Regions from separate parts of the Homo sapiens genome. Here regions 1, 2, 3 and 4 are each reported to be linked to region 5. The links are microRNA targets in miRTarBase. Many come from high-throughput screens and were not tested one by one. Region 5 holds a microRNA gene; each other region holds the end of a gene's coding sequence.
The links. Region 5 holds the annotated microRNA hsa-miR-148a-3p (UCAGUGCACUACAGAACUUUGU, at 2,414-2,435, opposite strand). A microRNA usually pairs through its seed, bases 2 to 8, with sites in the 3' UTR of a target mRNA and lowers its output. Matches are read on the target gene's strand: a 7mer-m8 pairs with bases 2 to 8, a 7mer-A1 pairs with bases 2 to 7 and ends in A, and an 8mer does both.

Region 1 (5,854 bases), not on the chromosome of region 5:
CCTCCTTTCCTGTGCCAATGAGTGGCATTTGTTTGTGGAACATGGGGATGTGTGGTATAAGCTACAGCTGGCCCCGTAAGTGGCCCTCTCTCTAATGAGAGAGTACATCTTAAAGTACTTAAATAGATTAATGTTTTTAATACTTACTTCTCCAGGAGCACAACACCAACCAAACCAAGGTGCCATTTCAGATGGAGCTGTAAGCAGGCAATACATAAAGACTGACCTGCAGTCTTAGAGTTCCTAAGACCCAATGCAGTGGAGCACAGCAGGCAGACGCTTCTAACGGTGCAGGCACTCAGGGGAGCTATTCCTTGAACTGATTTCCGTCTGTTGAGAGGAATGCCAGAAAGGCAAATACTTGTTTCAGTTATTCCGAAGGCACATGTATGGTTGGGCTTGCTCCAGTTATCAGATGCCTCTGCCATTTTGTTTGCATATTAGAATTCTTATTTTTGGTGTTTGCTGCTTGGTTTGGTTAGGTCAGGGTGGAAACATAGATTTGTTAGAGGCTGGCTGTCTTTGTGGTTTAAAACAAGAAATTACACAGGGAGACACAGCATATGGAGTTCCATTTACTGTTTTTGAGTGAAAGGGGAGAAATCACATGTGGTGCATCTTAGCAAAATTGCTGAGCTGAAAAAAATAACCACAGCTAACAGCACCTGAATGAAAGGCAGCATGACCATTTCCCAACAAAATGGTTTTTTTCTACCAGCAAAATGTGTGGTTATTTTGCAGGTGACTTCATTCTGGGCCACTAGAATGAGGACTAAACTACGAGTCAGCAAACTTTTGTTCAAATCTAAAGTCAGTCACTCAGGGCTAGTTTTTCCTCTTTGTATCTTTCTCTCACTTCTCTACCTTTCTTCTCATTTTTCCCATTTGTTTCCAACAGGCCTTACATTCTAAGCTTCAAGCTCTGGGCAAAATTGAGTCAGAAGGTCTTTTAAGTCTGACCACCCAGCTTGTCAAGGAAAAACTCTCCACCTGTGAAGCAGAGGACATCGCCACCTATGAGCAGAATCTGCAGCAGTGGCATCTAGACCTTGTACAGTTGATCCAGAGAGAACAGCAACAGAGGGAGCAAGCGAAGCAGGAGTACCAGGCTCAGAAAGCAGCAAAGGCATCTGCCTAATAGGGTCCCCCAGGGCCCCACCTGTCTCACAAGAACTTCACTCAACCCCGTGCCAGGACTCAGCAGTGGCCTGGACAACAGCCTCAGCTTCCTCTACCCATCTTCTTTTCTTAAAGCAGGCTATGTGCCCTACATGGCAAGGCACCATGACTGCCCATCGAGATGCCAAGAAGGGCTATGGAACTATGCAGGTGGCTAGTGGTCAGACTGAAGTCACCAGCTGAATACCTTAAGGAGGACTCTTGAGGCTCATAATGGAGTTCCTGGGGCACAGGGATTAGTTATGAGCATTAAAGTTCCTAAGACCCAGTGACAGTACTGGGAGAAACCAAGGCTGAAGAGTCAGGTTGAAGCACAGGCTTTTGTTTTTTGTTGTTTTTGTTTTTTGAGACAGAGTCTCATTCTGTCACCCAGGCTGGAGTGCAGTGGCGCAATCTTGGCTCACTGCAACCTCCGACTCCCAGGTTCAAGCAATTCTCCTGCCTCGGCCTCCTTTAGTAGGTGGGATTACAGGTGCATACCACCACACCTTTCTAATTTTTGCATTTTTAGTAGAGATGGGGTTTCACCATGTTGGTCAGGCTGGTCTCAACCTCCTGACCTCAAGTGATCTGCCCGCCTCAGCCTCCCAAAGTGCTGGGATGATAGGCGTGAGCCACCACACCCGGCCAAGCACAGGCTTTTGAATGGTCTCCCTCTCCCCAGCCCAGGTACATGAGGCCAAGGTGAACTGTGCATCCTGAGACCTTGTGTCCCTGAGTCTCCTTTCTGAGTGCAAGCTGCACTGTGAGCTGGCTGTGGGATACTCACACATTCCCACATTCTCCTTTCTGCCACATCTCGCCCTTCTGGACCTGCACTGGGAGAAATTCAGGACAGGAGTGAACTCAAGGCCATGAACTCACTGGATTTCCATTTTTAGGCACCCATAGGGATGTTTTTAGGATGTAAGTTTCTGAGGAGAAAGCTAGCTCTAGCATGAAGCTTTTTTGGATTGGCTTCTCCATCGTGTTGGGGTAACATTTTTTTTCCAATTTTTTTTTTCCCAAAACATCGTCTCAGCTCATTTATCAAGTAGGTAAAATGAGCCTTTTGTGTACACACAGAGGCACATGTGCATGCACACACAACTTGTGAACACACATTTCTGTTAAAGAAGTTAGAAAATGAGAGATGGGTTGGGGCTTGAAGTGCATCAGAGGTATGAATGTTGTAAAACTGTCAGGAGATGTAAAATTCCTTTCTGAAGTGTCTCTTCTGTGAAAGGGTTCAGAGCAGATTTTGCTTACTATGTAGTGTTGCCCTTAAGTACAGTGGTGTAATTTTATTCAAGATTGTGCTCTTCTATCAAAAGCCTCTGGAAATAAATGTTCCGGGATCATGTTAGTGTACTCTTTATCTTTGGGGAAAGGGAGGAGGGAGAGGGACTCATTATTGTTACTATGATTTTGAGGAGTGTACTTTAAACCCTCCCCCATTAAACTATGGGATTTATTGTAATAATGATAACTGCCACCACTAATATTTATTAAGGACTTAACTGTAGGCTGAAAACCCAAGCAGCCCTATGAGGGAGGTACCAGTGTCCCCATTTTATGAAACAAAGCAGCTCTCCTGCTGCTCCTCTCCCTGCCTGTGGCCTCCATATAGAACCGCAGTAGTCAGGATCCAACACAGGGCCCTTTAGACTAGCAAAGCTGCTGAATCTTACTTAGGTAGAGGGCCGTGACCAAAAGTCAGTTCCAACATTTTGGTTTACCAACAACAGGAGTTTTTCAGCCACTCTCTCATTACATTAAGAGGAACATTCAACACAAACAAAAGGGCAACTTTTGCCCAGTAAATTAATGACTGTCACAACATGAAGTATCTGGTTAAGGCTTTGGCTCATCGTTTTGCCTTCATTTTTCCTCCCTCTCCAGCCCCAATGTACTTTACTTCTCTTCTTCACCAAAAGAGACCACTTCTGCCACTGTACTGTGGTCCCACAGGAATTTCCATGTTCCCTCCTCCTCAGGATTCCTTCCACACTTGTGCCCCATTTCTCAGGACTCTTGGAGTCTTTCCCCTCCAAATATTCTGCCCTTTCCCCATGTCCTTATCTCCTGAGCTATAGGATACTCTCCTGCCTTCCTTCACAATTGGCTCTTCCCAATACAGTTGTCCTTTGTCCCTTTCCCTGATGTCATCTTCCATATTTCTTCCATGTGGATGGAGAAACTGCTCTTGGTGCCCTGGCCTCTGGAGGTTACCTCAACTGGATCATCTCCCAGTAACAAATTACCTTCTGCAGCTGACCTGCCATAGTCACAGCCAAACCTCCAGCCTCATCACGAATCCGAGATCTTAGATCCTGAAGTCCCCACTCTCCCAGGCTCGTCTCGTACCATGACTGCTGCTGAACCAACTTGCTCTGTAATTTCCTGCCTGCTAATCCTTAGCCTTTACCCCATCACCCAAACTCTTGGTCTCCAGAATCTGCTTCTCTTCCAGTGTGGGCCCCATGGTCAGCCATCCCCATGTTCTCATTAGCATCTTCATTTTCTCTCACTCCCTTTATCTAGGCTCACTTGCCAGCCTTCGACCTACATCCTTGCACCCATCTATTATGGGTAGAATTGTGTTCCCTAAAAAAGGTAAGTTGTATCCCTAATCCCCAGTCCCTTAGAATCTGACCTTAGTTGGAAATAAGTTTGTACTGAGGTAATCAAATATAGAGTGAGATCATCAGGGTCAGCCTGATCCAATTTGGTGTTTTTTTAAAAGGGGAAATTTGCACACACAGACTCACAGAGGGAAGATGAGCATGTGACCGTACAGGCCCAGGAACACCAAGGCTTGCCAGCAAACACCAGAAGTTAGAAGGGGTAAGGACGCTTCTCCCCTAGAGCCGTCAGAGAAAGCTTGGCCCTGCAGACACCTTGATTTCTGAGTTCTAGCCTTCAGAACTGTTATTTTAAGCCACACCATTTTTGGTACTTTGTTACTGCAGCCCTAGGAAACTGATAACACCACCATTCATTTTCTCTTTGGTTCTGACTTACTAAGTGTAGATATATAAAGTCATAATATTAGGCTGATTAGATTCTTCTACAAAATTATGGCTGTTCTCTTCAACTCAATAGTCCTTCCTTTAATTGACTCTCATTTTTGCTTCCATAGCTTTTCTGTTCTGCGTTAGCTCGAAGCCCTGCCCTCAGAACTACAAGCAGATGTTCTCTCCATCATCCTTCCTACTTTCAAATAATAGGTATCCCCTCCCTCCTTTCAAAGCTTAGGCTCTTCATTTGTGACCTTGGCCCATACCTGCCCACCTGTTCTACACATTCAAGCATTCCCTTTCCGTCTTATAGCATCTCTGTTGATTTCTTCTTCTAAGTCTACAGTCTTATTCAAGACCTTATTCAACACTTTTTAACAGCAAAAAATCCTTTACCCTGCCATCAGTCAAGCTGTCATGCTATGTCTCCTTCCTTATGTCTCCAAACTTCTTGAAAGGGTATCTACACTTACTGGCTCATTGTTCATTCATTAGAGGCTGAGAATTTGGCTTATAGCTTTACCACTCTGCTGCACAACATGGTCATCAACTACAGTGATCTTTTTTTTTTTTTTTCCTTTTAAATGCTCTGCTCCATTTGGTACCACTGACCACCCCTTATAAGCTTGCTGTCTGCAGCAGACTTACTGTCTGTTCCAGCACTGCTTTCGCAAGCTCTCAAGTGTTCGGTGTATACTGTGTACAAGGCACTATACAAGTGCTATGGAGTTTACAAGGATGAATAAACTATAGATTTTACCCTCAAATAACTTAGATTCTAGTGAGGCTGGCACATCCACACCCGTCAATACACAGCTGAAAGGTGTCGTTAGACAAACAGTTAATGTATGTGGGAGTTCACAGGAAGATCACTTTAAGCCCAGTGATGGGAAAAACTCTAATGAAGGGAATTAATTGCCTGCTTTGTGCATTAATTAGTCACATATGAGTGCCTCAAGCTGCCCTGGGGTCCTCTTTCCACAGAGGCTTGTGTGATGTGTTCATGAGAAAATACTTTAAATTAAGCTAAAATGAACAATTCAGATTAAACTTGTTTTGGCCCACATCCCATACTTACCTTGGCCATAAAAAGGAAAAAAAAGCAAGGCGGTGGAAAGAAGAAAAGAAAGAAAAATGATAAGGTATTATCCTCCCCTCAGTGCTGTGTTGCCTTGGCACCCAGCCTTGCATCCTGTTTTCCGACCTTCTCGTTGGCTGTGGAATCAGGTAGGTGTGTGAGAAGATTGGTTTAGATTCTACAAGAAGTAGTCAGAGGCCTTGAAAATAAGTTGATTATACCACAGTGGCTCACACCTGTAATCCCAGTACTTTGGGAGGCCGGGCCAGAGGATCACTTGAGGTCAGGAGCTCGAGACCAGCCCGGCTAACATAGCAAAACTCTGTCTCTACTAAAAAATACAAAAATTAGCTGGGTGTGGTGGTTGGCACCTGTAATCCCAGCTATTCAGGAGGCTGAGGCAGGAGAATCGATTGAACCTGGGAGGCAGAGGTTGCAGTGAGCCAAGATTGAGCCAATGCACTCCAGCCTGGGCAACAGAGCGAGACCAAAAAAGTTGATTAAAACCTTTTTTCACACTGAAAACAATTAGTTTTGCCATTCTTTGTTGTCTTTACTTTTGTGCATCTTCCCTGAAAATATACTGCAGCATTCTACT
Region 2 (5,650 bases), not on the chromosome of region 5:
ACGCGCCCCAACCCCATGCTTAAAATACTTTAATGATTACTGAAGTTTGTTCAATTCCCTCGTTTATTAGTCATTAATATTAACAAGATCAATTTGAAAACAGCAATTGTAGAATTGCCGTTAAAGTAACCCAAGCCCCACTGACCTCAGTAATATAACAATATGCTACTCCATTGTTGTTTAGAATATTTCACCTTCCTGATACAAAATAGTGAAACGATAAAAGCTACCATTGCCAAATTAAGGTTACTTATTTTTATTTATTTTTTCAGATGGCATCTTGCTGTGTTTCCCAGGTTGGAGTGCAGTGTACAATCTCAGCTCAGTGCAACCTCCGCCTCCTGAGTTCAAGCAATTCTCCTGCCTCAGCCTCCCAAGTAGCTGGGATTACAAGTGTGTGTCACTACACCTGGCCAATTTTTGTATTTTTATTAGAGACCGGTTTCACCATGTTGGCCAGACTGGTCTTGAACTCCTGACCTCAAGTGATCTGCCCGCCTCAGCCTCCCAAAGTGGTGGGATTACAGGTGTGAGCCACTGTGCCCAGCCATCCTAAGTTTAGAATATTGTGCTAATGCTTCACATGTACTTACTTTTCACAACCATGAGGTAGGTACTATCCCTGTTTTTCCTGTTTTGAGGAAACGGGCTTAATGGTTCAAGAATTTACTCAAAGTCAATAAGCATGTATCAGAAAAAGGATTCAAATTTTCTGTGTGATTTGTCTTTCTATATCCATAGCCTGCATCCTGAAACCACTCTTACTCATGTTTAAGTGGGGAGAGTAATGGAAACTCCCAGGAGAGATCCTTCAATCTAGTTTTGTGGCTAAAAGCAGTAAGGAGAAGTTGAGGAATCTACTTGTAAATGCAGGATGCCTAAGGGCTGACAATTAAGAAGAAAACTGAAAAACTAAAAAGCAGTGTAAAACCTCAGAAGCAAAGATGTCTTGGATCATACTCATAGGAGCAAAAAATAACCTAAATCAAAACAGTTAAGTATGCCAAGGGCCTAACTGAAAATCCAGTCCCTAATTGGCCTGAGTTGTTGAGTTCACATTATATTCAGATGAGTATTATTAAAAACATGGAGAAATAATAAAATATTTAACAAAAACTGGTTAAATGTGTTAAGTGATAGTGTATTTCCCATTAGAGTCGGCTATATATAAAGTTTGTGACACTTCTGTCCTCCAATAGACTTATGTTAAAGACAACATGTGTATTGAAAGTAGCAATTTTATTTGAGTTAAAATTATTTACAAAAACCCAAAGACATACTTCATGAAACTGGTACAAACTATTTTTTCCTGCCGTTGGCTTTTGCTCCAAAGATCACAGCTGAGAAATACTGTATAAAATAAAAATAGGATTGGATTCAGAAAAGTACTCTACTGTTCTAATTTCCAATTGGTAGTATTTACAGAAATATTTACAATGGAAAAAAGGTTACTTTAAAACTTTTAGTTAAGTCAGCCTCAAGTACCCTAAAATGCAGAGTTCTCTGAGGGTTAAAAACACACAAATGCACTGCAGTTGGTGAAGTGATTATCTCCCCCACCACCTCCCCCCACCAAAATCTGCATCTCTATCAGTGCTCGACAATTAGTTATTATTTAAAAAACAAAACAAAACAAAAAACTGTTAAACACTGAGGTAAATCAATTTTCAAATGATTACCAGTGTAACAGAAAAATGCAGTTCGCCCTGATTGTTCTCATCCAAATGTTTTATAATATTCCTTACCATCTGCCACAAGTCAGGTTCACCAAAAATCTGTCCCTTTCCCTAAATCCAATGATTAATAAATATCAATGTATTTTGCATTTTAAAATAAAATATAACTAATTTAATTTTACGGGTATCATTTACCAATATGTTTTTAAAAGTATTTTGCTAAGCTAGCTTTAATACTCAGGGCAAATACAATCTCAATGGTTCCCACGTTACACTGGCGTACTATGTTCTTAAAAGGTGATGGGTAGGGGTTGGGGTGGGTAGAAGGAAGAAAACAATTTGCCTGGAATCAGTTACTTCCTTACAGATTTCCCAACAATCTGCATTATCAAAAATAGGAAGACAATAGAAGGCAGCCACTGCATTTAAAAACATTACAGCTGGCACTGATACAAGAGCCCCGATTTGTCACTTTATACAAGGAAATAACAAAGTCTAAATGGGTAAAAATTAGACTTTTAGCTATTTTCCCCAATACACACCAAACTAATATTTTTATGGCTTCAAGTTTTACAAATCCAATGAAGAAACATGATGTAACTACCTGAAAGGTATTTAAAAGTATTAATGAAAAAGATCTCTAGAAAGCCTGTATTCAGGCCCAATCAATAAAAAAGGAAAAAAAAAAGTATAACCAGTGGTGTGAATAATACAAGAAAAATTTGCAATGTTATGATATTAAATCTATAAAATGTTTTGTGTTCCATAACTGTTTTTCAAATAACTGCTCTACGAACAAAGAATCTGAATGAAAAAAGGGTCTTCTCTAAACCAGCAATTTAAGGCTTTGCGCTTATGCAATTGATCCTGTCACTCTATAGAAGAATATACATGTTATCTGGAAACAGGAATTCCACATTGGTGTTTTAGCTTCCTTATATTTATTGTACTGAACATTAGAAAATATATCTAGAGAGTCTTTCCTCAAAATCTAATAATGTTTTAAGAGCCTCCCTAGCATTAAGTGTAAACTACCCTGGGTTTGACTATTTTGCCTCCTCCTTTTAACAGGGCACATCATCTTATATAATATTCTCTCAAACTGTTGTTTTTCTTGTGCCTATAGCTATGACACATTATGGTATGATATTGAATATGGTTGTGGTCTCAAAAGTAAAAAATAGTTCAATAACCCAAACCTAATCAAGAATAAAAAAATATACTATTAATCCCGTGTATCTTTGGATTCCATCTAATTTTAAATATAGACAGTAGTTCAGGGAACAACAACCAAAAAATTCACAAAATTATTAAAAGCTTTATTTACGATTGGAATCATTCAACAAAAAAGCAAAAGCAAATGAGCCTGAAAAAGGAACTAAGCTGTTGTCTAGAATGTCCTCAGAACATTCGCTACCTCAGTAGCTAAGCTGCCTTTGCACCTGGCTGGCATGACAACAGTGGCTCAACATACACAGCAGTTGCACTAACAGCAGCACAAATTTTCCCCTTCAAACTTGCCCAGAATAAAGCAAGAAAACAAGGGGAGGGTATAAACTCTGCCAAAGTAAATGTATTTAAATACTGCATGGAATTGTTAACAGCCTGAACCTTTTCCCCTCATTTTTGATAGTTGCAGATTGATGTAGTAACTGTCATTTAGCAAATGCCGAATGCATGACGAAGAAATCAGGTGGCCTTAAAAATCCAAACACGAATGATACTGATGAATGTTCTTGGTATATCTTCAAGGACTTCTTTCATGACTTGACTTTTCTTTGTCTAAGGATAGCTCCAGCATTACCGAGCACCTGAAGCAAAGGTAAAGCAGCTAGCAATGTTCCAAATATTCAATCACTCTAGAGATAGATTTCTGGCCAGTTGTTCCAACAGCACACTGAAAGCAGGGTGAAGGGGAAAGGAAGTAACAGTTAATATTTAACAGATTTTAAGAAGTATAAATAAAAGTTTACCTCTAGATTTACTAAACTGAACACTACAAATCAAAGTACACCGAGATTAAATTGTGGGTTTGATAAAGTTATTTGCCATAACATGCAATGATTACCTTGAAGAAATAGAACACGATTATTAAAATTAAAAGAAAATCCCTTTTTGCTCCCACTTACTATGGCCATAGTATTTTTATGTCTACTGTCAATGTATTATAAATTTAAAATCATATAAGCTGTAATAAAAGCTACTTACAGTGAGATTCATAAAACTCAAAAATTTTTTGAGCATCTCTGTCATTATTGAAAAGTCTCCTTCTGGCAGATATTCCCGCACAGTGGTTACATTGATCTGAGGAAACAGAGCAAGAAATATTGGTCAGCTGGCAGAAAACATGAGATTGCACCTCGTACAATGTTGTTGGTTTTGACACACATCTTGGTGCAAATTTTTAAGATCCTTGGAACACGTGGTTATTTATTCTCTTTCCACACTCACTCTGCATGTGATTTCCTACCTCACCCTCAGAAAGAAAGGAGAAAGGTAAAGTTGGCAAAAGCTACAAAGAAATATTTGTGTACACATTTACTTTTTTTTTTTTTTTTTTAAATGAAACAGTCACTCTGTTACCCAGGCTGGAGTGCAGTGGTGTAATCTCAGCTCACTGCAACCTCTACCTCCTGGGTTCAAGTGATTCCCATGCCTCAGCCTCCCGGGTAGCCGGGATTAAAGGCACGTGCCACCATGCCTGGCTAATTTTTGTATTTTTAGCAGAGACGTGGTTTCATCATGTTGGCCAGGCTGGTCTCGAGCTCCTGGGCTCAAGTAATCCACGCACCTTGGCCTCCCAAAGTGCTGGAATTACAGGTGTGAGGCAGCATGCCGACCTACTTTCATAAATGCAAAGAAAAAGGCCTGAAATAACAAACTGCACTGTTTAATGTATGTGTGTGTTTCACTGGGGGCCCTGGGGGAATAGGAGAAGAGGGTGAGGACTTTAGACCTGAGAATGTACTCACAAAGCTGCTCATGAAATAAAAAGATCAAAGAAAAATTCACATCCTTCACAGATGAATTCAACTAATTATATAGGACAGGAATTAACTAGAAGCATCTTTCCAAAGGCAATCTAACCTCATCTATGATAGATTCTCAGACAATATCAGGAGAGAAAACCCTTCATTATTAGCAAGAAGCAGCCAAACTATATATAAACCAATCTGTTACATGGAAAACATTACACAACCTGCTTAAAAAACTATTTCATTAAAGAATGCTTTAAATGTTTTACGGAGAATAAAAAGAAAAAATCTTTTAGGAAGGTTCACCTGTAGTAAGGGGCAAAAGAAAGTATACTGTCCCAAGTTTGGGGACACAAGGTAAAGGGTTAAACAAAACCAACCAAAAAACAAAAAGAAAACACACAAAAGCTCCCAATTCGACTTTTGTTAGCGGGGGCAAAAAAGGAGAGATGACATATTTCTCTTCAGAAATTTGCCACTACCCACCCCCTTTTTCCTATTCCCATGCCAGGGTACTCGCAAAATTAGAAAGCAGCAAAAAAATGAGATGAATACAGCTTCAGAAAAGATCTAATCAAAACACTGCTAAAGTACTCATGTGCTGAAGATATCAGTTACACACATTCAAACTGATCCTCCCACCAAAAGCTATCACAGTGGTGGGCAAAATAGTGGCTAAGGTGTCTCTGGAGAACTGCTCAGTAGAAAAGTACGCCTCTGTAATAGAGAATATATGATTAGCTCCTATATTTTGGATGAAAGCCCCTCATTAATCCAAATCAAACCCTTCTCTATCAACACACTACAGAACATGACATACAGCGTTTCTGAGGCAATGGGAGGGACAGTGACAGCATTTTTTAACAGAATATAGCAGGTACAAAAAGAAAAGGCATGATACAGCATGGCCTATTTGAAAAATTTTAAAAGTGTCCAGTAGGTTTGGAAATTGGAGAAGCAGTCTTAAGTCCAGGGTCTTGCAACACTAAACAGTCATGA
Region 3 (5,854 bases), not on the chromosome of region 5:
GAGAAACATGGCTCAAAGTTCTGAAATTAAAAAGCGAAAGTTTTGGTCAAAGTCCTACTCCTGAATTGGTCTCTGGCAAGTTACCAAACTTCTGTTTCTCAATGTGTTTAAAACAAAACTACTTTCACCTGCCTAAAAGAGGAATCGAGAAACACAGGTGTTGCACAGTGGGGCATCTCTTAGGAAGTTCTTACCACTCTGGCAATACCTAACATTCTGGACTTGCAAAAATGACTGTTCCTTTAGTACTTTTAGCTAGAGCAGAGCTGTATGGGGTTCTCTAAATAAAACCACATGCTTCACATGAATGTTAGTGGTCCCATTTGGCATTTTCTCAGGGAAAAGATTCTTACTCAGGCTTCTTTGGTGAAAGTTCTGGTATCCATAGGATAACTTTAGGCCCTCATAATTCCCAGAGGGAATTCCCAGAGGACGTGGCCCACTCTTAGAACACAACTCCATGCCTAATTCTAAACCAGTGGAGCAACAGTGACCCCCAGTGGCCAATGGTGTGGTCTTCTTACCCCCCAGTTTGTACTTCTAAGGAGAGTTGAATAATTACATAGTGGAATAGTAACCATCCAATCCATCTTGGCAACTATTAAATTAAATAAATCAATACCCCTCTGACCTGCTTGGTTTTATTTTAACAACAATGCCTAAATATCAATATAGCAGTGGCAATAATGTATCTCTGTTAAATAGAGTGCTTGTTAGGATTTTGATTAATGTAGGGTCAATAACGAATCATTTTTTGTTTCAATCCTGTTATTGAAAACACCGTAGAGTGTATTAATTCCATGTTTGGGGGCTAAGTTGTTTGTAATTAAATGATTCTTGCTGAGATAACTTGGTTTAAATCCTCTACCATTTACAAGCTATTTGAACTTAGATAAGTCGTTTAAGCTTTTTGAGCCTTTGTAAAATGTAAGAAATGTTAGCTTTGTTGTGAGAATTAGAGATACTACATATAATATGCCTGGAATGCAGCAGGCACTTAATAAATAATAACCATTTTGGTAGTGGTGGGATAGGCGATTGGGCTTAATGTATAATGATGCCAGAGGTTTTATTAAATTGTTGAAACAAATTCATTAGATAAGCATTTTGTGTAATGAGGACTGAGGAGTGGAAACGCAGTTCCACCTAACATATGTGTTCTTCTTTCATTTCTTTCTCTAGTCTTTGAAGCCATCAAATCATGCTACCATCCAGAGTATAGTGAGAGCTGTGGGGGTCGTTCCTGGGATTCCTGAGCCTTGCTGTGTACCAGAAAAGATGTCCTCACTCAGTATTTTATTCTTTGATGAAAATAAGAATGTAGTGCTTAAAGTATACCCTAACATGACAGTAGAGTCTTGCGCTTGCAGATAACCTGGCAAAGAACTCATTTGAATGCTTAATTCAATCATTAGTTTATTTTTATGGACTTCTTCCTGTTTTTTTTTTTTTTTTTTTTGCACTGCCAATGCATTTTGTTTCAAAAGATTATTTCTATAGTCAGAGGGGAATGAGCAAATAGACTGAAGATTGCCACCAAGGAAAAGAACTGTATTTGTTTCTGAATGTAACTTAAAGCAAGATTTTTAGTAAATATGGACATCTATTTCTCTTTTTGTAATCAAACACAACAACTTATCAAACTGTTTTTAGAACTGTTAGAGAACACACTGGTTTATTTTTGTAATGTTCTTTGAAAACAGAATGGAGAAGCAGCAATAGCTTGTCATTTATCTCATTTAATGACTAATGGGAAATAGAGAACAATTTCGCGTTTTGAATTAGGCTTATTGCCTTAGAATCCTGAGAAAGTGCTAAATAATCAACTCTGATGTTTTTCTTAAGTTCTTGAGACTCTTGTTTATCCTTGTTTTTCCTCCACAAGTCATTGTCTAAGTGTAATGGAAAGTTTATGCTGAGCGTTAGTGTGTATGTATGTGCGTACATGCGCCAGGTGCCTGTGCCCTCTGTAGGATGGTTTGCTTAATATGGTTTTATAATTCAGTTTACACAGGATTCTTTATTTTTTTTAATTTTGTATTTTGGCAAACACCATTCAGTTATAAGAACTTTGCCAAATATGATAGAATAATTCAAGAGCATATACAGAGAGTTACCACTTGACCCAGCTATTTAATTGCAAATACAGTTGTTTTCATTTCATTTCCTACCAGAAAAAGGAATCAGAAACCTAGTTTTTGAAAACACAAGTGTAATTCCTCTTTTGTACTTCTTTTTCACAAATGCTTTTATTTATTCTAAATTGAATTTAAAAATCCTTCCTAAAGCCATTAACTCTTTAATTCTCCTGATATGCCTTTACTTCCTATGAAGTTATTGGTAGATGTTGAGGCCCAAAAACTGGTAGAATATTGAAGATCTTCTTAAATGACCAATTTAACCATAACCAAATATTGAATATCATTCTTCAGTCACATCTAAGTCAGGCACTTTTTCACATAGATCAGGGCTTTTGGCTCAGTCACGAAATCTACAAGTTAGCAAAGCTTACAAAACATTATTCGTCAGGTATGGGAATCAAATATAGACACTTGTTTGTCTTTGCTTTCCATTTCTATGTGTCACATACATATATGTGTCCTCTTATAACTTTAGTCTTCAAAATTATTTCAATATCCTTCTTCTCACTATATTTATTTGTGTGATGGAAATGCTTTCAGGCCGTAGATCATTGTTGGTGTTAATCTGTGGTTAATCCTCATTTTAGTTCCGTCTTATCTGATACTTAGAAATATCTCAGCCATTTTGGAGGCTGTGCAGTATCAGAAGACGTGGAGTTTGTTCTGTCTCTGCCTGTAGCTAATTATGGTGGTTCAGTCATTTAATAAATATGTTTTGAGCATCTATTTTGTGAAAGGCACTGTGTTACCTGTGTGTCTTTAGTGTCCTCACTGGTAAAATGAAGAGGCTGGCCATGAGCTGGAAGGGTTAAGTTTATAATTCCAGCTATTTCACACCCGTCTTCCTTGAAGGAATGATAGTGATAGATATAAAAACACTGTAAGTCCCTCTTTTAATAAACTAAATGAAAGAACATCCTATACTTCGCTGTTTGTAAATTAGTATGGCATTCGCTTTGGTTTAAGTGGTATTTTATTGCAAACCCATTAAAAGAATAACTCATGAAAAGAAGCTCTTTGACACCTTGGGGTACACAAATGTTGGTGTGGGTGTGTGTTAATTCTGTGAGTGAGACACACCAGTTCTAAAAAAAATGAGTGAAGTTCTGGTGCCTGAGTTACCATGCTTTCTTCTAGTTCTTACAGTAGCATAAAATTAAAGATTCAAAGTGAGATGGAGGATAAAATTACTTTTTAATACATGTTCTCAAACATTTGAAAATAAAAGTATATGATAGAAGGGGGCCAGAGTGTGGCCACCATCCTGATCGTACTGTTTTTCAATAAAGAAAACTTTTTCATTGGTAGATTTGGTGAAATTCTAAATTTAGGTTTTTTTCTAGAGCTGTATCAACCAAAACTTCTGGCAATTCCCAGTATCACTTCTTAGCCTTCTTATATCCAAATGCCTGTTTATTACCTTTCTTAATTTGAATCAATGCCTAGTTATTACAGATTGCACCCCACAATGGCCAAAAACCCACTACATAATAAAATTTACAGGTACTAACTAGTTAAGATTATATTTTAAGTAGCAATTGATATAAAATTACAACACAATGAAAGAACTTGGGTAATCTCTTAGCAATGGAAATAGGTTTTAACCAGCAGTTTTTCTGGGTGCTTTGTAACTATCATTTTACTAATGAATTGAGGATGTATTATGGTTTAAATTGGAAGAGTTTTATTCCCAAAGAATAAAGCAAGATTATCTTTCAGTAGTAGAGATTGAAGTAAATGTATTAATATTTTAATTAATACAGATTTACTAAGAGTAGTTAGAAAATTTAGTAAGTGCCTGTTTTACAAATTGTTAGGTACTAGTTTCTGTATAATTCCTACACAGAAGCTTTAGAAATCTCCTGATATTAAATTATTAAATTGGCATTCATGAAAAGAGAAGCTACAATTATAAACTCCATTTGCTAAATCATGCATAATACTCTCTCTCTCTCTTCCCCCACAAGTAATCTCTCTACCCCATGCAGTGTGCACACACACACACACACAGTCAGTTACTGAAAAAAATAATTCTTTTTCTTTTTTTTTTTAAATGGAGTTTCACTCTTGTCGCCCAGGCTGGAGTGCAGTGGCGTGATCTCGGCCCACTGCAACCTCCACCTCCCAGGTTCAAGCAGTTCTCCTGCCTCAGCCTCCTGAGTAGCTGGGATTACAGGTGTCCGCCACCATGCCTGGCTAATTTTTTTATTTGATAAAAAGAATTCTTTTTCTCAATAACTGTTCTCTTGAATTCAAATTAAGGGACTGCCAAAGTCAATTAGAATATTTTAAAAATACTTTGTTGTAACCTGTGTAAATAATATACAATTTACAGGATTTGGGATTGTAGAACTTAAACTGGAAGACTGGATTCCTCAGATCTCAGGACTATAACATTCCAGATAAATTTTTACATTCCCTTTGCTGTATATTAACTGATGATCATTTATATGTTAAGATTTTTTACCTTAATATTTCTGAATAAAACTCTTATTGCCCATTTAATATTTTCATAGGCAATCAAATGTGAGTAATACTGCTAAGAGTCTGATTTATTAAAAATATTTGTATAATTCATTCAGTTTAGTTTTTCAGTTTAGTCTTTCTGCTTTCACTTTTCTCTGTGCTAACAAGTAACTAATGTCTGGGCATTGACTTCTTATTGAATCAAAGTTGGGTTAGGCATAGCTATGCACACCTGATGTGTAAGATTAAAGAAGAGATTAAATAAGAAATCTTGGGTAAGTTGGACTTTTCTGTATAGCTCTTTTTTCCTCTGAGTTGTATTTTAATGTAGTTTATAAGTGATAAAATGATCCTTGTTTTCTAAAAGCCAGTCCTTCCCTTCAGCTTTCCACAGTTTCTGTAAATGTTTAATACTTGTACAGTCAATGGCAATTTTAAATATATATATATATATAATATATGTATATGGAAAAGGTTCAAAGATGCTTTTAATTTATTTAATGACTATTGCCTTCCTATAATAATAATTTTCATCCTTAATTATGATAATACTTTTAGCAAGAAAAATTCCTTTTTACTACAGTTTTTAGATGCAAAATGCAGTTTGGTTCTTTAGTCAAATCCACTTAGAGGGTATATTGCAGTGAAACTGTGAAGGATACTTCACTACCAATGTATAAGCTTTGTTGAATTTGTATCATTTTCTTTCAGTAATGAAAAGCTATTCATTATACAGTATGGAAATAAAAATTGCTTCATTGACCATTCATTTTTACTTATTGGGAAATACTATATTTCCAGACATTTTCAAGTGTGCTGCATTTAAAAGAGGTAATAAAGCTTAAGCATAGAGTTGAACATTTTCAAATGGTATTCTAAATGGAGCATCGTAACTTACTCTTAACATAACATGATTATCGTTGTAAAACAAGATTGAAATATACCCATCAGGAAAAATATATCTTTCAAGCTTGAGAAACTCAACTTAAATTGTTTCATATTTTCTTTTCTTTTTTAACCAAAAACTCCACATTTTATAGTTGGAGACTTTTGTTTCTTTCTGGATGTCTGACTCACTATTTTGACAATAACTTTATTTCATCTATCATTCTTACCATGTCCTGTTCTTTTAGAATGATAACTATCTAAATTTAATTAATCTTATCATTGAGATATATTCTAGCCATTTTTTGTTTAGGCCATAGTTTTTTCTTTAAGGAAAAAAAATGACCTGAAATTAAGAAATA
Region 4 (5,826 bases), not on the chromosome of region 5:
CCCGTGCTCTGAGTCCCGGGTGTGGATGCCTGGGTGCAGCCAGCACTCACCCCTCGGGGGTCCGAGGACGACGCTGCTCTCACGGTCACTCTCCTGTGACCCGAGAGCCAGAGCAGGACCCGCCACCCTCCTGTGCCGTGTCCCTTCCTGTCCACCATGTGTCAGGCCCACTGGACACGGTGCCCGGCAGCTTCACACACACAATTCGCCCTTCGTCGTGCACGAGGCAGTGTTCCAGCATGTTCAGTCACATAAGCTTCACCACAGCCATTTCGGAACATTTTCACCCAAAAAGAAATCCATACCCTGTAAGCAGCCTCCCCCCATCCCCCATCTCCCCCCATTCCCCTTGACCCACCCCCAGCACCCGCCAGTGCACCCCCTGCCTCTGTGCCTGGCCCACTCTGGCATTTCGTGTTAAGTGCAGTCCCACAGCGTGAGACCCTTTGTGTCTAGCTTCCTCCCGAGCGTGAGGCTTCCAAGCTTGGCTCCTGGTTCTAGCTGAGAGGCCTGCAGCAGGCACGGCCCACATGGACTCAGCATGTTCTCGGGCTGCATCCATTTTGGCTGCTGTGAACTTGCGTGCACCCGTTCCTGAGGCTGTGCCACACACCAGGAGTGGACCTGCCGGGGAAGGGGCGGCTCTGTCTCTCACACTTTCAGGAACCACAGGCCCTTCCCGTGCAGCTACAACCCTGCAAGAGGGGTCCGATTCCGCACGTCCTCCCCGCGATTCTCTGGTTTTGGCTGTGACCATCACAGGTGTGAGTTGGCATCTCACGAGTTAGAACACGCTGTCCCCACTCATGGCGGACTCTCTGGTGCCTCCATCCTTATATAAATTAAATTATAAATCGAATGGCCGGGCATGGTGGCTCATACCTGTAATCCCAGCACTTTAGGAGGCTGAGGCAGGCAGATCACTTGAGGTCAGTTCGAGACCAGCCTGGCCAACATGGTGAAACCCCATCTCTACTAAAATACAAAAATTAGCTGGGCGTGGTGGTACACGCCTGTGATCCCAGCTATTCGGGAGGCTGAGGCAGGAAAATAGCTTGAACCTGGGAGGCGGAGGTTGCAGTGAGCTGAGGTGACGCCACTGCATTCCAGCCTAGGCAACAGAGACTGTCTCAGAAATACAGAGATTGGGTCACTTCAACACACAGCACTAGGAAGTTTGGGGTAAGGTCATTTCCAAGCCGATGACATGATTTGGAAGCCCTCGTCCAATTCATATGGTCACTCTTCAGCCACCTGAGTTGGCTGTGGCTGGTCAGCCCTGACGCTCCTGCTAGAAAAGGGGCGGCCAGTACATTTTCTCCAGCTGTCTTTCATGCTGAATGAGACTCAAGAGATTCTTCAACGTACTCAGATTTCATAGGATTTTATTTTTCTACTAACACAGACAGACAGGGAAACCTACAAAAGGAAACGGAGTCAATTGTAAATGGCTGTAGTTACTGGTTACACGGAGTTGACAACACAAAGGATGCCTGGTGCTTGCGTGCAGAGGCTGCAGCCCAGGGCGGGGGCAGAGCTGAGCCCTCAGGAGGTGGTTTCGTGTGCAGAACTGAGCGGCCCTCAGAAGCAGGGCTGTTTTCCAGCCACCAACCAACGTTCAGAGCCAGCACCATGTGGCCGCTGTGCCTCTAGCCTGCTCTCCTCCAGGTGCAGGGGACACAGGACCTGCCGGCCCCATCCAGACATGGAGGAGCGTTTTGCTGCTTAACTCATGCTTAGCCAAGGCAGGCAGAGGCTGTGGGAACTGCTGAGCCCCGCTGTGATGTCTGGGACACGCTCTGGGCAGCAGCCGTCACTCTACAGCAATGCCAGCCCTAGTCTGGCTCCTCAGAAACATCTGGGGGCACAAGTGCAGCCTCTGCCCCGATTTGAACTTTGTTGATGGGGCTGATTCCCTTGGGAGACCATGCAAGCCAGACGTAGCCCAAGGCCTGGCCATCTGGGGCCTCTAGTATATAGAAGCAACCTCTTTATGGACAACCTTGTTACCACGTAACTCCCTGGGGTGTTTAAATAAATAAATATGCCACATAGAAAGGGAGGCCCAAGTCGGTGCCACTGCCCGCAGCCTGCAAATGTGACCACAACCTACAAAGCAGAAACTCACAGCCAGCCGAAGTGCAAAGTGTTGGGCCCTTGAAAGCTATCTCTTCAGTGCCACCGCCGCCTCCATGCAAGGCACAGGCCATGGCAGGGGACGCCCGGGACTCAGCCAGACAGACCTGACACCAGGCGCCACTGCTGCCTGAGGACCTCCCACGTCGGGTCCGTGTCCTCCTTCCCTGGAGCACCGGGGTGGGGATGGCACGTGTGAGCCAGCTCAGAGGCTGAACTGTGTGCCGTGCTCCTGGGGTGGGGTGGGGTGGGGAGGGCAGTCCTGGCTGTCGTGGGCTGTCGGGGGAACTCACTGTTCACTCTGCGCGCGTGTGCCCCTGGGTTTCAGTGCATTTGCCTGCGTGAGGCACTGATCGCACCTGTGGCTGTGGGCTGGGCCCTGTCAGTGCTTATGAAAAGAAGTGGCTGGTTTTCTAAAGGTGGATGGAGACTCGGACAGCTGCAAACACAGCCCGGCATGGCAGAGCCACAGCTGGGGGCCCCTTCCCGGAGCGTAGGCCCTGATGAACTGAACGTGTTCACCACACACCCGACAGATGATCCACCACGTTCTGGAAAAGCCGAGTTCCCTTTCCAGATGGCCCTGGCCCACGCCTCAGCTCATGAAATGTGGACCTGCCGAGCCCAGAGGCTCCCACACGAGGGTGACACGGGCATGGACAGAGTCCTCCAGCTTCAGTGCCTTGAGGTACAGAAACACAAAGACAGTCAAGGAACAGAGTGACTCGGAGGTGACCGGGGCCCTGAGCGGAGCCATGGCCAGGGCTGACGTTTCACCTTCATCATCAGGGACAGCTTCAGCTCCGGGTGCTCTTCCAAGAATGTTCTGGATGGGGTAGAAATGCAACCTAACCACTGGGTAAATCCAGCCAAGGAAAAGAACTTCCAGAAACCAAGGCAAGGGCTCACTGGCTTCTTGTGACCTGCGAGAAGATCTGGCCACGTCCAGGTCACTCCGGTAGCAGCGTCTGCCCTCAGATGCAAGGAAATCGTCCAGCCACGCCCTGATTTGCTGAGCCTGTTAAGGCTGAACAGGAGAGCCCTAGGTGACGGGCCTAGAAACTTCCGTAGGAAGCCCCATGGGCAGCTTGGGCGGCATCACTGGGGGACAGGTGTGTCTGCCGTCTGTTTCCCTGGGCCAAGCCCAGGCCCAGGCTGCCCACGCCGTCCTCCGTGCCTGTCCCAGAGTGCCGTGATGCTGTTGGGCATTAGGAGTAGATGGTGATCACCTCCCGGCCGCCACCCCTGACCAGGAGGACTCTGTTCAGCCCCTCGGTCAGGACTTCAAGAAACTCCATGTCTGTGGTCAACAGAGTTAAGGCCACAGCTGATCTTACCTGAGCGTGTGTAGCTGAAATCGTGATAGGAGTGAGGTTTATCCTCTCCTGGTTAGCTAAGATTTGGTTTGAGAAACCCAGAGCCAAGGTGAAAAGAGAGGTGGGGATTAGAGAGACCCCCCAGGCGGGGAGGAGCAGGGCAGGGGAGAGAGGGGCCAGTGCTCGGGAAAGAGAGGGAGCACCGTGGCCACAGGGAGGACGAGCAGAGACAGCGACACAGCCCACGGTGCTGACCCCACCCGACAGGGAACCCCAGCCACGGGACTGGGTCCTCACCAGCCTACAGGGGACCTGGGCCACGGATTCCGATCAGGACGCATGGAGGACATGCCCTCACTGGCCCCAGTTCTTGGTGCCAACCTGGCAGGGATGTGCCAGGCGTCACCCTGTCTGTGCCAATACGCCCAGATGCACTGCGGAGTTCTCCTTCCAAAGCACAAATTCCCAAAGCTGCGACCAATTGTGGCCTTAAAGCCGAGAGCTGGGCTCCTCACCTCCCACCGTTGTCGGCGCAGGGTGGGGCTGAGCCCCAGCGGAGGTCCCAGAATGCACAGCTGCTGTGGGGATGCATGACAGGGAGCCTCCCAGCCCCAGGGCAGCCCTGAGCACCTGGGGACAGTGGGGCTGGTACTGTAGGCGGGCCCTCCCTCCCCCACACCAATGCCAGGGCTGGCCCCAACTCTGGCCCGGTCACCACTGGGCTCAGAGCCCCACTGCATCCCGGTCGTAGCTCCCAGAGCCTGGGGCTGAAGGAGAGGCGGGAAGCCAGCCTCACTCCCAGCACCCACAAACCCAGGTCTTAGCGAGAAGCCACCAGGGGGTGCCCGCACGCTCAGCAGGCACACTGCAAGAAAGGATACAGTTCTCGTCTCCCTGCCGGTTTTTGGGAGGACCTGGCATGTTGAGCAGGACCAGCTGCGCATCCTGGGACTTGTTGAGGACGACGCCATTGAGCTTCACAGCCGTGTGCATCCGCCTGACGTTGGACTGGTCCCTGCAGGGGAGGTGGGCACGGTCAGCGGGCGGCGGGTGCACCCCACGCTCCGGACACGAGGCTGAGCTGAGCCCTGATGAGCTGCATTCACACGTGTTGGAAAGGGCTGTGTGAGTCAGGATCAGGCGGATTCTCTGACCCTGAAGGATGCAGAAGTGGCGGCTCCGAGCGAAAGGCGCTGACTGCAGCCAGGGCGGGCGTTCAGCAGCGGGATGCTTTGGCCTCCAGGGACCTAGAACTCAGCCCACTAAGGCTGCCAAGCTTCTAAGGGCTACAGTCACACAACACAAACCGCAAGCGCTTTCCTAACTACATCTACATCTGCAAAGCAGGCAGAACAGTGGAAGCCGTCTGGGTGGCCCATGTGCCTGACGCCTTCAAGGCTGACACGCTTCTCTTGACATCTACATCATCGCCCCTAAACCCCACGTCAGACACTGCCAAACACAGACCCGTCAGGCTGGGCACACATGGCCTCCTCTCCGAGGGTCCTGATACAACTGGGTCCAAGGGGCCGGAAGCTCAGGAAGGAAAGGCCCAGAGTCCCCCACACCGGCCTGTGCAGCCGTTGCTGCTGAAGCTCCCAGGCCTGACAAGGACAGGGTATGCCGAGGACTCAGCTGGAGGCACAGGCCCTCAGTGGCCACTACTGGGTCCCCTCCTACGGCCCACCCTGCCCCTGTCTGGCCAAGGGCTAAAGGACAAGCACTTCCACCGTGTGGCCGTCCAGCCCCCGCCTTCCGTCCTCACAACGCAGCTCTGCTCCACGACCCTCCCTGTCTGCTCTCTGAAGCTGCTGTGGCCGGTCCATGTCTCAAAGCGTCCCTGGCGGCCTGGGCCCGGCCACAGCCCCACAGGAGGCTCCCCAACCAAGTAGGTTTGGGGACACTGCAGAATCATGCTGTGAGGTGCTCAGGCCCTTGCGGGACAGAGCTTATCTCCCTCCTCTACCCCACGGTCCCCTCCTAGGCAGGCCCCTAAACTGCAGCAGAACTGGCGTTCCAGGAGGCCACCTGGGGAAACGCTGGGCGGAGGGGAGCACTTGCGTTTCTGTGTTGGAAAAACCCGGCCCGTGTGTGGACTTGAAAGTCGGAGCGGGTCTCAGGCCAGCTGCAGCCGTGCGGTCGTGACTGTGGCCCCCTGGGGGAGGTCACCAGCGCCCTGGACGCAGAGGGGCGGCGGCGGACAGACAGAGGCCGCCCATGCAGGGTCATGGAGAGGCCCCACGGACGCTATCCAGGCTCACGCCCTTTGATCCGCTTGACGCTTAAGCCACATAAACGTGATCATAACCACCAATTTCCAGGAGGAACACAGGGAGAGACCTTCTATCTTCTCTCCAGCCTGGTCTAATTACAG
Region 5 (5,854 bases):
GCCTTCACATTCACTCACCACTCACTGACTCACCCAGAGCAACTTCTAGTCCCACAAGCTCCATGCATGCTAAGTGTCCCATATGGGTGTAACATTTTTTACATTTTATATTGTATTTTTACTGTACCTTTTGTACGGTTAAATAAATCCTTACCATTGTGTTACATTTGCCTACAGCACTCAGTACAGTACCATCCTGCACAGGTTTGTAGCCCAGGAGCACTAGGCTATGGCATACAGCTTAAGTGTGTGGTAGTCTCTACCACCCAGGTTTAAGAACACTCACTCTGTGATGTTTGCAAAAACAATGAAATCGCCTAACACCACGTTTCTCAGAACCTATCCTCATCATTAAGCAATGCATGACTAAAGTTTCAGCTGCACCTGTTTGGTTCATTCACATAAAGTATCTAAAATAAAGACAGGAGTGCCAAGGCCATGCAAAGTAGGTTGCTAGTGATGGTTTCCTTTGCCCAGCGATCTGGGTTAAATGAACACCACGGCCTCCCCAGCGTTCCTTGTTCTTCCTTCCCTGACGTTTATCACCCTTCTGATTATTTTATATTTGTATTGTCTACCTCTTGCATGAGAAAGACCTCCAAGAGGGCAGGGTTCGGGGCCTATTTTGTTCACTGTTGCATTCGTAACGTCTAGAGTAACACCTGATGCTCGGGAGGTGAAAATACACTGATTGCTAAACGACTGAGGTCTATGAGACCATGCCAGGTTTACAGTAAGCACCCCAAGACTGCCGATTTTCCCAGTTCCTATTCCTGGCATCCTTAGCACCAGAGTAAACCACAGCCCTCCTGCTTGGTTAGTCCTTAACTCACTTGTGGTCACAAACAGGAGAAATGCAAATCACTTAAGCATAGAAGTCAAACCAGACTGAATCATGTCAGGGACTCCAAACCTTGCCTTTCTCTGGAGGTGAGAGATCCTGACCTAATTCCTTTGTATGGATGACTACTCTCCCAGTCAACCGCTCCACTCTTTACCTCCCATTCTCTTACAAAGTTGATTTAAGTTTTCTTAAAATTCAGTATATTCAGACTATCTTGTGGAGATGTACAGACATAAGAACTAGGAAAGAGAATCCTCTTCCTCAAGTAAGCATACCTTACATCTCAAATGAACACAAGACGTACTTGAGTTTGGATCACTTTATTTAACTGCACAGAAATAATTCAGCCATTTTTGGGTAAAGGATTGAGGAACAAAAGCAAAGCAGTCACTGATGGAAAAGTGGGAGAATGGATAATGGCCACACAAAAGAGAACACATGCTGCCTTAGGATCAATACACAGCATTTCTGTGAAAAGCAACTGGTAGGTCCTGCCATTAAGCTCTAACATCAAGCAGCTGAATACTTTCTCCCTCATTGAGCCTTCCTCCATTATCATCCCTCTCCCGATGATAAACCACTGGAATATACCTAAGTAAAAAAAATGGTGGCTTTCTTTACCAAGGGCTTCCCAGAGACACAAGCAACCCCCAGGTTTCTGAAGCATCCCATAAAATACATCAGAAGGCCCTTCCCTTACCTGTCAGCACCACGGGCACAGGAACCATTTCCTTTTTTCCCTACCACCCTGCGTCCTGTGCCTGGCCAAAAGCTCATAAAACCAAAACAGGGCAATGTCCATGGAACAGGACTACAATTTGGTGCCAGTCACTGACCCACTATAGAGAGCAGGCTATTGATAGAAACTCACCAACCCAAACCTCCATTCCACTAGGGATGAGAGAGCAGTCTCTCCACCTAAAGGATCTCCACAGCCCAAAAGCATAAATGTCCCCCTCCCCCAGTGGCTTTCAAAATGCTTTCTTGGAAAAAGTTCTTCCTTTCCATTAATAAAACTTACTTTAAAAAACAAAAGTGAACTGCATCTAAATCGGAAGCAGAATTGAGACTAGATCTCCAAACTCAATCCCTGCAGGCTGTCATTTATCCAGCAGGTCGCTTGAGTAAAAGGACCATTATCTGTGGCTTTTGTACAAATACATTTCCTTCTTTAAGGGTAGAGAGTTTAAATTCCTGCAAGGCACTGCACACTAACACACCCATTAATAAATCTGCAGCTCTCCTGGCTCAGTTTAAGTGAGGCCAGTCTTTCAGTACCTGTTAAGCAACCTTGAAAAGTCCAAAGCTTTATTTTTTTCTTCTTTAAACCAAAAAATTCTACAGTCAGGAGTCCACCAGGGTAAGATGAAGAGATTTGGGGGGATTTTGTTCCCATTTACAGGGTTTAACCCACCCGCTTCAAGGGAATTGGTCAAGTTCCTCGTGCTGCACTTGGACCCCCTCTGGCCTTGCCCCTCCCCCAAGGGAAAGGCGCAGCGACGTGGCCACCAGGGCCACTCGGCCTGGCGTCTGGAGCACTGGCGGCATCGGCGACCACAGCCTCTAGAGACAAAGTTCTGTAGTGCACTGACTTCTATCATACTCAGAGTCGGAGTGTCTCAGAACTTTGCCTCAAAAGACCAAACGTGCTGTCTTCCTCCAGAAGTTTCTTCCTGCAGGTGTGTTCCCCCACCCCCCAGCTAAGACAAAGAAGAATAACTCGTTAAAAGCAATTTAGTTCAGGATGCGACCGATAATGGAACGGGTCATTAATTATGGAAAGTTACTGCCGCAGTCAGCAGGAGCAAATGCCCAACAGAAATGGTGTTTTAACAGCCCGATTCGACAAATTCTGGTCGCAATGTCACAGCAAAGGGGCTGCAAGAATCGCACACTCTCCTTCCTTCCTACCCGTCCTCAGATTAGAACCCATTCCTGGTCGAACCCTCACCTCCCTCGGTAGTTATTTAAACTTTTGCCAGCAGCTAACTCACTCTAACTTGTGGCAACTTTTTACCTTCCCATCTGGAAAGCTGGGGGCGGGGGCGCTGCACGAGGACGAATATTCGGAGCTGAAAGAGTTAAACGGTGGGGAACAAATACAGGCCCGGGAAAAGCCCCTAAGATGGGACGACCCAAGAAAGACCCGCTTTGCGGGGCCTCCCCTGAGACCCCCTTCCCCAGCCATTCCCAGTACTCTATTCCCGGTCTTCCAGCCGCCCGCGCCCAGCCCCGGGAACTCGGGTCGAAGTCGTCCCATCCCCTCCGTTCCACCCACCCACTCTTTGGGATTCTCCCTGCCCCATTAGGCAGTGCTTCCCGCGGACCCCGTTCGCGCACAACCTTGCACACAGTCCCCAAGACTGCTCTTCTCCCCCTCCCGGCACCCCCTTTTCCCTGCAGCATAAGCGACCACTCTGTCCCCCATCCTAGCAGACCCCCTCCCCCCACATACCGCACCTGAACAGCTGTTGCGCGCGTGCAACAGGTCTGGAAAGTGCTTTCCCATCTTCCCCCAAACCCCTCGCCACCGTTCCATCCCCCGCCACCCCTAAGAGACAAGGCCGGAGGGGCAGTGGGCTGCGTCCCCCGGGCCGGGGTGCACGGGCGGCTGGCGGAGTGCGGGGCGCCCAGAGGCTCCCGGGGTTGGGGGCGGTGGTCGCGCTGGGCCGGGACACCTTCGCGAGTGGCCCCTCGTGCGCCCGCCGCAGGCTCCCCAGCCTGCCCCTCCAGCGCCGGCCGCCAGGCATTCCCGGGCCGGCTCCCCCCTCGCGCTCCGCTCCGCTCCCTTCCATCTTGACTTTTGCCGACGTGGAAATTTTGGGTTTGGAGACGACCTGCGCTCTTATTGGCTGCCGGCGGGCGGGGTCGGAGGTCACGGCTGCTCTCGCTATTCCGCGCCAAGGGGAGCCGCACAGCGGCTCGTGTCAAGTCAGCAGGTTCCCTCCGCCTCCCCCGGGGTCACGTGCGCCCCGGGCGGGCCCGGGAGACGCCTCCTTATGCAAATAGAGCGGCCGCGCGGGGCTGGGGGCGGGGGCGGGGTGGGCGGTGGCGCGTGGGGGCGGGGGCGGGGGCGCGGCCGGCGCTGGGAGGGCGGGGCGCTCCAGGTGGCCACCTGGCTCGACGTCCCGCCCCGCCCTTCTGCCCACCAGCCTCTGCCAGGCTGCCTGTTCCGCTTCCCGCGACACTCGGGCCGGGCGCTGTCCCCGGCCAGCCCCGCTGGGCCCAGGGAGCCCGCGTTTTGCAAGATGCCCCTGAATGCCCGCTTTCCCCGGAGCCCCCTCCTCCAAACCCAGCCGGAGCCCTGCCTGGGCCCGGTGTCTCCTGGCTGGGGAGGAGGCGGCGGCGAAGCTGCTGCAGGGCAGAGTGCGAAATGGAAACCTCGGGAGGACAGTTTCCTCCCCTGGCAGGGAGTTGAGAACTAAATGCGAGATTCCCGGTAAGGGAATTCTAGGACAAAGCAAAATCAAGAATTCATCAAGGTTAAAAGTCGTTTCTTTTAATAAACTGCCCACCACCCATCCCCAAATAAAAAGAGGCCAAAGAGCTAACTAAAAGTAGTAAAAATGCCAGTTCTGGATTTTTTTTTTTAACACGTCTACAAGGACTAACCGAAAGGCCGGTTTGCCTCCACCCTGACGTCTGCTGGGTACTGGGCACCCGAGACTGAACCAGGGGACACGTCCTCCTCTCCTCATCTAGATGGGGGTGTGACTCGGGGGAGCTCAGAATTCCCTGAGAAGAGGTCACGGGCACGTAGAATCAATTTTAACGTGGTTCCCCAAGCACGCCAAAGAAGATGCTGTTCTAGAAAGAAAGGGAAATTGATGAATGGCCACGTGACCAGGATGTCTTCCTTCCTTCCCTCTCCCCAAGGAAAAGAAAGTAACTGCATTGCAAAGGTAGAGCCCATGTTATAAATCGGACTCTCTGATGCCGGCCTGTAGTCACCAAGGAAAAAGAAGGGGACTGCATTTTAAAAAATATAAATATTTCTGAGAACTGGCCTAGTTATTTTTTCCCTCAGGTAACAAAGTATGTGTATCATCTTTATAATGGTTGCATCTGAAGTCTGACCTGGTGATACAGAAAAACATACATTTTTATGGGAAGATTCTTACCTGGAAAATTCTTCCCATCCACTCTTCTTAATTTACTTTCCTTCTCCCCATTTCCCCCTATGGAAAGATAAATCATTGCTCCTTCCAACTGTTTTATCCTCAAGGATCTTTCTCTCCACTCTCCTTTCTCTTCCCTCTCCACACTTGTTTGTTTATCTGACCATTCGCGGGTTTGCAGGGGCCTCTCCCCAGGCATTGTCTCCTCCAGCCCCCCACCCCCTCCTCGGTCAAGGCCCGGCGGCAGTGCTTGCTGGGGCTCGGAGTTTGTCCCCGCTCTGCTGCCTGTTCTGTTGTGTGCACTGGAATATTGATTTTTCAGTGTGTGTGCGCCGGCTCTGTAAAAATCAATATTTCAGTAGCTCGAGCACAGCGCAGGGCAGTGTAATGGAGCCAGCCTGCTGATGTAACGTGCGGGGTCCACCCTCAGCGATTGAGGTCAGTCAGAAAATGGCAGTGTTTTCCCATTTCATTGTTTGCTTCGGAGAGAAGGAAAGAGTTTGCATACCGTTGTGTACATCAGATTCCAGGATGAGGTAACCTTACTACTGTTGGGTAGCAGACGAACCAAGTTAGAAAAAAGACAACGAGGTGATGATGGAAAACCTCCGGTTATCCTTTGTAAGAACGGATCTTAATAAAATACTGGGGGAGGTGGGGAGTTATTGTCTGCCATCAATCCTACCACATTTCACAATGATAAAATGAAAACAGGCTCACTCCAGGAAAGGGCCAGAGTTTATCTTTTAATACTGGATATGTGGGTGCTTATTATTCCGCAGCCCCTAAAATATGCTTCTGATTAAAAGGACAAGAGATGTTTCGCATGACTTGAGGGGAAAAATTAATAATGGTCCCAACTTGGGGGCTAGCCTCATGACATTTGCAGCAG

Region 1: miRTarBase lists MRPS27 as a target of hsa-miR-148a-3p. Seed matches in the 3' UTR shown: 7mer-m8 at 1,919-1,925 and 7mer-m8 at 1,994-2,000.
Region 2: miRTarBase lists WAPL as a target of hsa-miR-148a-3p. Seed matches in the 3' UTR shown: 7mer-A1 at 1,591-1,597.
Region 3: the mRNA of BMP3 is a reported target of hsa-miR-148a-3p. Seed matches in the 3' UTR shown: 7mer-m8 at 1,459-1,465.
Region 4: miRTarBase lists SLC12A7 as a target of hsa-miR-148a-3p. Seed matches in the 3' UTR shown: 7mer-A1 at 2,812-2,818, 7mer-A1 at 2,519-2,525, 8mer at 2,461-2,468 and 7mer-A1 at 2,173-2,179.

What each region holds. Positions count from the first base shown.
Region 1 is chr5:72,216,193-72,222,046 of GRCh38, reverse strand. It overlaps MRPS27 (mitochondrial ribosomal protein S27), which reads left to right. Exons shown (of 11, transcript NM_015084.3): 11 at 899-2,644. The coding sequence ends at 1,138. Among named protein-coding and RNA genes, the nearest start is that of MIR4803, 50 kb to the right of the region's middle.
Region 2 is chr10:86,434,036-86,439,685 of GRCh38, forward strand. It overlaps WAPL (WAPL cohesin release factor), which reads right to left. Exons shown (of 19, transcript NM_015045.5): 18 at 3,885-3,980; 19 at 1,221-3,573. The coding sequence ends at 3,508. Among named protein-coding and RNA genes, the nearest start is that of GRID1, 70 kb to the left of the region's middle. RefSeq lists a silencer at 3,977-4,271.
Region 3 is chr4:81,052,163-81,058,016 of GRCh38, forward strand. It overlaps BMP3 (bone morphogenetic protein 3), which reads left to right. Exons shown (of 3, transcript NM_001201.5): 3 at 1,183-5,465. The coding sequence ends at 1,374. Among named protein-coding and RNA genes, the nearest start is that of BMP3, 24 kb to the left of the region's middle. RefSeq lists a silencer at 116-165.
Region 4 is chr5:1,049,016-1,054,841 of GRCh38, forward strand. SLC12A7 (solute carrier family 12 member 7) reads right to left here. Exons shown (of 24, transcript NM_006598.3): 23 at 4,334-4,467; 24 at 1,369-3,436. The coding sequence ends at 3,345. Among named protein-coding and RNA genes, the nearest start is that of MIR4635, 11 kb to the right of the region's middle.
Region 5 is chr7:25,947,509-25,953,362 of GRCh38, forward strand. MIR148A (microRNA 148a) reads right to left here and starts at 2,478; the gene lies at 2,411-2,478. All of the region lies in intron 6 of LOC105375199 (a long non-coding RNA gene), which reads right to left. RefSeq lists an enhancer at 519-588 and silencers at 3,432-3,571, 3,702-3,921, 4,042-4,251.